3 separate regions of the Homo sapiens genome follow, and regions 1 and 2 are each linked to region 3. Evidence: fine-mapped expression QTL. A gene starts in region 3. Each other region holds a variant in brackets. All regions are shown on one strand. Distances are between the middles of the regions.

The links. PIP is the estimated chance that this variant, and not a neighbour inherited with it, causes the effect.
Region 1: its variant is fine-mapped to the expression of PKHD1L1 in whole blood (INTERVAL, PIP above 0.99).
Region 2: its variant is fine-mapped to the expression of PKHD1L1 in whole blood (INTERVAL, PIP above 0.99).

The regions. Positions count from the first base shown.
Region 1 is chr8:109,517,253-109,520,020 of GRCh38, reverse strand. It overlaps PKHD1L1 (PKHD1 like 1), which reads right to left. Exons shown (of 78, transcript NM_177531.6): 73 at 1,513-1,854. Among named protein-coding and RNA genes, the nearest start is that of EBAG9UORF, 21 kb to the left of the region's middle. The variant G/A (reference allele first, on the strand shown) is at 1,373.
Region 2 is chr8:109,451,126-109,453,893 of GRCh38, reverse strand. It overlaps PKHD1L1 (PKHD1 like 1), which reads right to left. Exons shown (of 78, transcript NM_177531.6): 41 at 2,745-2,768; 42 at 1,614-1,770; 43 at 1,020-1,176. Among named protein-coding and RNA genes, the nearest start is that of EBAG9UORF, 87 kb to the left of the region's middle. The variant C/T (reference allele first, on the strand shown) is at 1,613.
Region 3 is chr8:109,360,966-109,363,733 of GRCh38, reverse strand. PKHD1L1 (PKHD1 like 1) reads right to left here and starts at 1,273. Exons shown (of 78, transcript NM_177531.6): 1 at 1,081-1,273. The coding sequence starts at 1,153.

The DNA.
Region 1 (2,768 bases), 160 kb before region 3:
GATAATGTGGTAGGTGCATAGGGTCAATGCCTAGAAGCAAACCTCTTGGGAAAATGAGTGAAGATCTCTAGTGGCATAAAGTGAGAACTTCACCCAGTACCCAGGTTTACACAGAGCCTGGGAGTTTAATGATAAAGTGACTGAACACAGGTAGATAGGGTAGATCCCAACCTAGTGGGGCTGCAGTTTATATATGTCTGGACGATCTCTTTAGGAAAAGGAATGCAGAAAAATCATACCTTTGTAGCTTTCATAATAACATTCAATGATTTGACCACATTATGAGGACCTCTCCTAAGGTATTGAAAGTGAAAGCCCCTCCCAGGACTTGTATCAGTGAGGGGGCTTGAAGTGTAAGCTTCATTAACTGGATGGTAAGTCTTCCTCTGACAGATACCTGCCTTTCCTGTTCTTGGGGAGGGGTACACCTAGATCAGAGTACTTGTGCTTGACCACTGAAGACAAAGGCATGGTTGCAGGTTAGCAGTGGGGGATATTATTGCATCCCAGAAGACCAGGAAAGTTCAGTAGTACCTCAAGAGATGCATATGTAGAGCAGAGAAGATGACCCACTCTGTACCAGAGGCTGTGAAGACAAGATGATAACATGAGGACGGAGGCCAGAACAGCCCCTTGGTATTCAGACCCCAACTTGAAAGGAGCAGATGGATAGAGAAAATTTGAAGAGCTGAGCATTTACTCAAGTGCCCAAACTGAGTGACCCTAAGGAAATGATTTCAGCCAGCAGAGATTTCTCTGATGGGACAGTTGAGCTTATTTTTTTATCTCTGATAAAAAATAGGAAGTGAGGGACACAGAGAGGGGATGATGGCTTGTGAGGATGATTCGCTCAGTCACAGGAAATAAAGACAGATTATGTACTTGCACATCTGCCCTTTTTGGGCTGAATCTGTGACTTTACTGTGGAAATCTAACCCACCAATCTACTGCTCAGAATATCCAAGAATATTTACTCTTTTTCTTAAGAAAACATCCACAGTCCTTCCTTTGACTTCCAAAGCTTTCCACATCTAGCACCTGTCTACCCCTTGGCTACACCTCCAGCAGCTTGTCCTTCCTGGCTCCTTCCACTCCAGACCAATCGGACCTGTTTCCTCTCTTCAAATGCACCAAACTCTCACCAACAGTTTCCATAGCTTGAACACTCTTTTTCCTCTGTCTTTTCATTGACTATCTTCATCCTTAATCTCTCATCTGTAAGGTCACTTGCTTAAGTAGGTCTTCCCAGATCTTTTTATATTAGATCAAATTCTTTTGTTGAACTTATTAATCATCACAATAACAAAACAGAGATTCAAATTCCTTCCAATTCTAAAACAGTTTGGTAGTACAGGAGCAAAGAAGGAAAAAG[G/A]GTCTCTGGGCACTTAGAGGGTTCAGGATGTGGGGTTGATGGGATTTCCTGAGGCCAGGCTCACCAAGCCCTGATCAGGTTATTTATGGATATGGATTTGGTAATTGCATTCCTCCATCTCAAACACCTGTTATTCATACCTGTGGTGCCATTGCTTATGAACTGAATAGGAGGGTCTCCAATCTCTATTTCAATTATGAATCCCATGGATCTCTTCCTCCTCAGACTCTTCCCTCTTATTTTGCTGATACGGATTTTGTCACTTGGTATCTTTAGGAACAAGGCAAGATTTTTAACCAGATTGTGAGAGGTATAAAAGTCATCTTCTGTTGCAACAGATAATTGGAAAGAAACAAATATCACTGTGGCAGTGTGAATTTCAACAGGTATAGTTCCTTTAACCAAAAGATAAAGCATCTGGTAGGTTCCATCAAAGTAGTTTTCACCAAGGACAGTGGAATCCAGGTTAGGAAGGAATTGGTCTATGAAGGAAAAAAGCCAGAACATCACAGCTAAGTATTTTATATTATCACAATCAACATGCGTTACTTAATGTTTGTTTGAATTTAGAAAGTCCCCCAAATTCAACTTTATCATTCTTTCATAAGAAAGCATACCTTTTTAAAAACAAAAACACTTATAGAACTGACCTGCGAAATTAAAGCCACTCCTTTAAAAAATACCACAAATAATCATTACACATTGTTTGTTTTTTAAAAATTAGCTATATAGACACAGTATAAATGAGAAACAAATCAAGTTATGATCCCAGGAGCCTATACTGTAGTTGAAACCCTATTCACATGCTCATAATTTTAAAGCCTTGACTGAAGGCATTTGGTAATTTAAAAATATAAATTTAACTTTACTAGCTATCTAATTTATACAGTGCTATATGCCAACTCTTAAAAGAGCATTTACAATTCAGTGTTTCTATTTTAACTAAGGACAAAACTGTGTAATAAAAATGAAGTATACATTAAAACATCTCAGAAGAATCTTATACCAACTAAACAGGCTTACATTTCAGCCTGAAAAATGTTTGGCTAATGCAAGACAAATTCTGCTAGGAAACTGAATTTTACAAAAGTGATTGAGATCATTATAATGAATGAATATATGTATGATTTTATGGCAGAGTATCAACAATTTCTAAGAGCTAACAAACCCACTAACACTTATTGAGCCCAGACAAACACTGAATTGTGTAATAGTGGTGGAATGAGATATGTAGCTTCTTACCACATTTCATTGTGAGGCTTACTAGGAAAAAGAAATTAAAATTTTAGGAAGAAGAAGGAATTTCACAGTAATGAAAGGAGCAGAGACAAAGATCATAAACATTTGGGTAACTCCCAAAATATGTATAGGTTCATAACACAGGGATATTATTTTG
Region 2 (2,768 bases), 90 kb before region 3:
ATTTTAGATGCTACTAAATAGCTCAGCTATGCAAATTCGTTGTACAAACACAGCACCTCAAAATATAAATTAAGAACAAAAGCAATTAAAGAAAAGCATGTTTATAAAAACCATTATAATGTCAACATTAGCTTTGAACTTTTACCCATTAATTTGCACTCTCAACAGCTATAGCCTGATTAGCATTATTAAAGATCATACCAAGATACATTTTTATGAGACTAGTGTAAATTTATAAATTTGTAAGTAGTAAAATTTTATTTGTCCAAAGGTCCAATATTTAATAACTTCAAAAACCTGAAACTTTTCTATTTTCCCAGAAGTTAAAAATAGTAAATAACAATGCAGGAGTCTTCCGGTGGCTAAGCCTGTTATGGCAAAGTTTGTGCACTAAATCCTCAAGCAGTCTACTCTTACCAATTAATGATTCTTTTACATGCAATTATCACAGTTGTGGTTATTTAGTTTTCCATAGTAAAAAATAAAACACAGCAGCAGAGACAAACCCAGGCAACAACATAAACAGGTTCACAGGCAAAGGTGAAAATCACAACCTATCTTCCAAAGGGAGTCAAGGGGATCATTTAGGATAGACCTGAACAAATCTCGATGACTTTTTATTTCCTGGGACCCACTACATCAGTGTTTTTCAAAGTGGAAAATACCTTTTTTGTTGTGATCTAGTGAAAGTGGGCGGGCATGCTCACACCTCCCCACATTGTTATTGAACCAAAAGTTTCATAAAACAACATTTAGCTTTAAAAGGTACTTACCCATATGCATGCAATCTATTCTGATGCTGTCTATCCTATTTAATTTTTAAAATGCTGGCTGCAACACATTAAATAATATCATAATCACAAATGGATTGTAATACTCAATTTAGAAAGCCCAGGACTACACTGTATATTAAAAAGATAGTGCAACTATGTTTGTTCATAATTGTGGATTTTGATTAAATCAGTTTCACAGAAATATTTATCAGGCAGAGTCCAATGAACAGATATTCAGAAATTTACCCTGAATAAGCAACATTTTCAAAATAGGGGTGCTTTGATCCAGCAGAATGGTCTGTCCTTTTGTAATAACAACAAGAGATCCTTCTTCTGGGGGAGATTTTCCCCCCCATGAGAAATTGGAGGACCAGGCATCAACATAAAGAAAGTCAGCATTATCCTGTAATAGAACATAAGAGACCTTAAAATTTAGGGATTTTACCAGAGTTTTTCATTCGATTTTTCAAAAAGCATTTTATTACAATATAAATATATTTATATTATATAGTAAATATATATAAACAATAAGCATTTTATTAATAATAAAATCTAACCTACTTAAAATGTGTCATAATTGCCTCTTGGTTTATTTCACAATAATGATCAAGTTTAAAAAATCTATTACCAATTACCCCACAACTCAGAAAAATCAAAAATCTAAAATAATAAAAATTTTAGGAAAAGCAACAAAAAATGTAAGCTACTTTAGATTTATTATGGTCACAGCTCAGTTATTTTTTTGGAGACATTAAAGTAAAACAACAATTACCAATTAGCCCACCTCCCATAATGCTGGTTTTCTATTGCTGTGATTACTATACCCAACAGCACTATTA[C/T]CAGTTTGGCCATGCCGACACCTCTGATGTGGACACAAACTGGAGCCCACCCTGATAGAGTATGGGCATCTGTCATGCAGATGATGTGTGTCTTGTTGGAATACTCAACATCACATTTGGCTTCAGCTATGGTGATATGAACATCCTCCATATTTTCACTGTAAAAAAGAGGGAAAACATAACATGTATGTTTTTCTCAAATATCTAGATCACACTGTCAAACCCTTTTATTCCTATGTATTATTGCAAAAAAAAAATGACCTGATTCTATCAGCCACCAAAGTGTAGATTGATGCTTTTTTTCAATATTAAGACTTCAAAATATTTATTGAAAAAAAGTAAACAAAGAGGTTAAGAGTCCAGAAAATAGGACTGTAACTAGCAGATGTTCCAGTGTTGGGGAAAGAAACAGTGATTGTTGTTGTTCAGTGATTCTATGTTGATCTCCCAACAGGTACTTTTAAAAGAGATTTTCAAGGATCACTTGTCCATGTGACATTTTCATCATGTTTGTGGACTTTAGAACTTAACCTCCAGATAAAAATGCAAGTTCAAGGTAATCATAACTGCTTGAGGAGTTACAATGAGCTTCTATGGTGTATGCGATCTGGTGTTTTGACTTCAGCCTTCCGCACCTGAATAATGATGACAATGCAGTACACAAATTTGAGCCAAATAATGAGTATGTTTAAGAAAAAGAAACTTGAGCAATTACAGTGGAATAGAACTGCTGTATGGAAAGATGTTTCTTTGATCCAATGAAGCAGATCATGGCTGGAGATAAGATGATGGAGAAAGCATAACAAGAAGGTGATTTATATTTGTGATGCTACATACTAGGATTGGGGGCAAGATGTCTAACCTGTTTAATCTGTCTTCTAACCATAAAACGAGGTAAAAACATCTCAGGAAGTAAGGCAGGACTTCTCCGTGGGTAGGCAGGTAGTTGCCACAAAATAAATACTCAATAAATGTTAGCAATTAGTACTATTTTTGCCTTAAGCTTAAGTTACGAGCATATAGGTACACATTGCATGACTGTATTTCTGCACTGTCCGGGCATAGGAGAAAGCAGGAGTAATGGCTCAAGTCTGGAAATGCACAATGATGCGTGTTTGTGTGGAGACAGTACCTGAATCCTGATCCCACGACTGTC
Region 3 (2,768 bases):
TAGATAGAGGGAACTGCCCGGGCAAACAGGATTGTGTGAGCTGCTTCTTTGGAGTATTGCAAATAATTCTTTAAAACAACTCAAAGCTACACAGTGGATAGAGGTGTTTATTTTCTGCTTACACTGTACAGATCTAGTAATTGCTGGAATCCTAAAAGAAATTTTCACAGTAGGTAGAAAAATTTAAGGGATGATACAAAGAAAGGCCACAGAAATTATTAATTTCTCAAAATGGATGTATATAAAAAGGCTAAGGGAATTATGATTGGCTTGTTCAGTTCTGTCTTAAAAAGGTTTAGAGTGGACTTCACCTATAGTAGCAAAAGCTCTCCAACATAAAGGAGACCAGTTCCGAGGCCCCAGACCCAGTGCCTCTGTACCTCGGGTCTGTCTTTGCCAAGAGCTCCAAGGTGTTCTTATTCCCGCACATTCATATCTCAGGGCAGCCCAAGAGTAGGAAACTCCAGCGGGGAAGCTGGATCCTATCTCCAGACAGTGCTGCTCCTCGCCTATCTCAGGTTCATCCTCCTGTTATCTCCACAGACAACTCCAATTTCTTATCTTATCAGTCTCTTCCCAGCCCTCTTCTGGGTATTACTTTGAAAACACAGGGCAGCTGCCCCTGGAAATGACTGACACCTGCCACGAAGTCCCATCCCCGTCCTACTGGGGGTTGTTGCCCTTTCTGTTGTGAGGAAAGCGACCCAAGAAGAATGGAGGAAAAGGGACTCAGGTTGCCTCTTCCCAGTCCCCACTCCCCCGCCAAATTTCAGTCTACTTGTGTCACTTTGTGGGTGCCGGTGGGAGATTTCATCATTCAAGTAGCAGCATTGATGAGTTAAAAGGCAATCTCTCGCAATCTCTTTCTCTGTGTCCTTGTCTCTGTTTCTCTCTCTCTGCGTCTGTCTCTGTTTGCTAGGCCTGCTATCCAGCTCCCCTGGTCCCCAGGATCGTCATGCAACCGCACCCACAGCCTCAGCCAGGTGCCAGGTGGTCCTGCCTCTCCCAGGACCCCGGGAGCAGGGGTAGTGTCTACGCGGGCCTCTCCTGCTTGCCTGCCTAGCGTGCCCAAAGGGTTACCTGTGCTGGGATCCGCGGCACACAGGAGCAGCCCACAGAGGCCCCAAATACCCAGGAGCCACAGGTGTCCCATTGAAAAGCCAGTTCTGCGGAGTTGGTGCCCTCCGCTCGCAGCTGGCTCTAGTGCTGGAGCTCGGCTCCTGGGACTGCGACTCGCTGGCGGGCCCGCTTCGTCCCGGGAGAGCTGGGGAACTGGGCCGCCCTCCCGTGGCCTGCCCCGCCCCTGCTGTCGGGCTGCTCCTCTGGGATTTGCATGCGCGCGCGGACACACACACACACACACACCCTGGAACCTTCGCGGGAGAACCAAGCCGGCCCCGAGCCAGTCCGTGATAATCAAACCTCCACACTCAAACCTGGGTGCTGCCTTCCCAAGGCTGTCCCCATAGGTGGAAGGGCCTTACTCCTTTTGGCGAAAGGAATCAATGGTCATTGAGGTCTCCCTAGGTCTCCTTCTCTATTTTCTTTTTGTTTTTTTTCTTTTCTTTTCTTTTCTCTCTTTCCCCGCGTACTTTCATCTGCCTGTCTGCCTTGGTCATTAATCCTCCCCAGGTGGGCCTATAAGACCACCTAATACACAAACCCCACGCGTGTTTACCCCTTCACATTCATATGAGATTGTGCTCTCTCTTTAATTGACAATCAGTAGACTTAGGGCGAAGGCTTACTGTTGGCATGGAGGGAGGTCCAGCACTGCTGACCTGTTTCTGGGATGCCAGATAGCAGACGAATGAAACGCAAGTTTCTCTGACCTCCCTGGAGAAGGCAGTTTATTATTCACCACTGAATGCTCCCCAGGGGCTAATTCCAAATCCTCTCACTGTTCTTAATATCTTAACCTCAGGATCTCTTGATTGCCCACCTCTCCCTACTCTTTAAAAGGTGAGAAGGGGCTGGGCACAGCGGCTCACGCCTGTAATTCCACCACTTTGGGAGGCCGAGGTGGGCGGATCGCTTGAGGTCAAGAGTTCGAGACCAGACTGGCTGACATGGTGAAACACCATCTCTACTAAAAATACAAAAATTAGCCTGGTGGGGTGGCGCATGCCTTGTAATCCTAGCTACTTGGGATGCTGAGGCAGGAGAATTGCTTGAAGCCGGGAGGCGGAGGTTGCAGTGAGCTGAGATCACACCCCTGCACTCCAACCTGGGCGACATAGTGAGACTCCGTCTCAAAAACAAACAACAAAAAAAGATGAGAAGATCCACCTACCTAGTTTGCAGTTTCTACATTTTAAAATGTTATGTGTTTTTAAAAGATATTAAAAGATTATTACCCAAATAGCAATGCATAAGCTTCTATTGGATCCTGGTTTGTAAAAAATAATAATAATAATATAAAGCTATGAAGGACGTTTGCAGAACAAATTAGGGAAAGTGAATATGGATTAAGTAACAAGTATTGAAAGATATTATAGAAGCGTTCATTTTATTAGGTATAATAGTGGTATCATACTTTAGTCAAAGAGTGTTTTCAAGTGATGGAATTGCATGATGAGGTATTTGGGGTCATAGTGTCTTTATGTCTGGAATTTACTTCAAAATGGTTTTGCTGAAAAAAAATCTGGCAAATTTTAAACAATGTTTGAATTTAAGTGTAGGTATGATCCTTTGCACTTTTTTATTAGTTTAAAAATTTTTATAAGTAGAAAATTTTAAATTCTCTTTCTTTCATTCCCTCCCTTCCT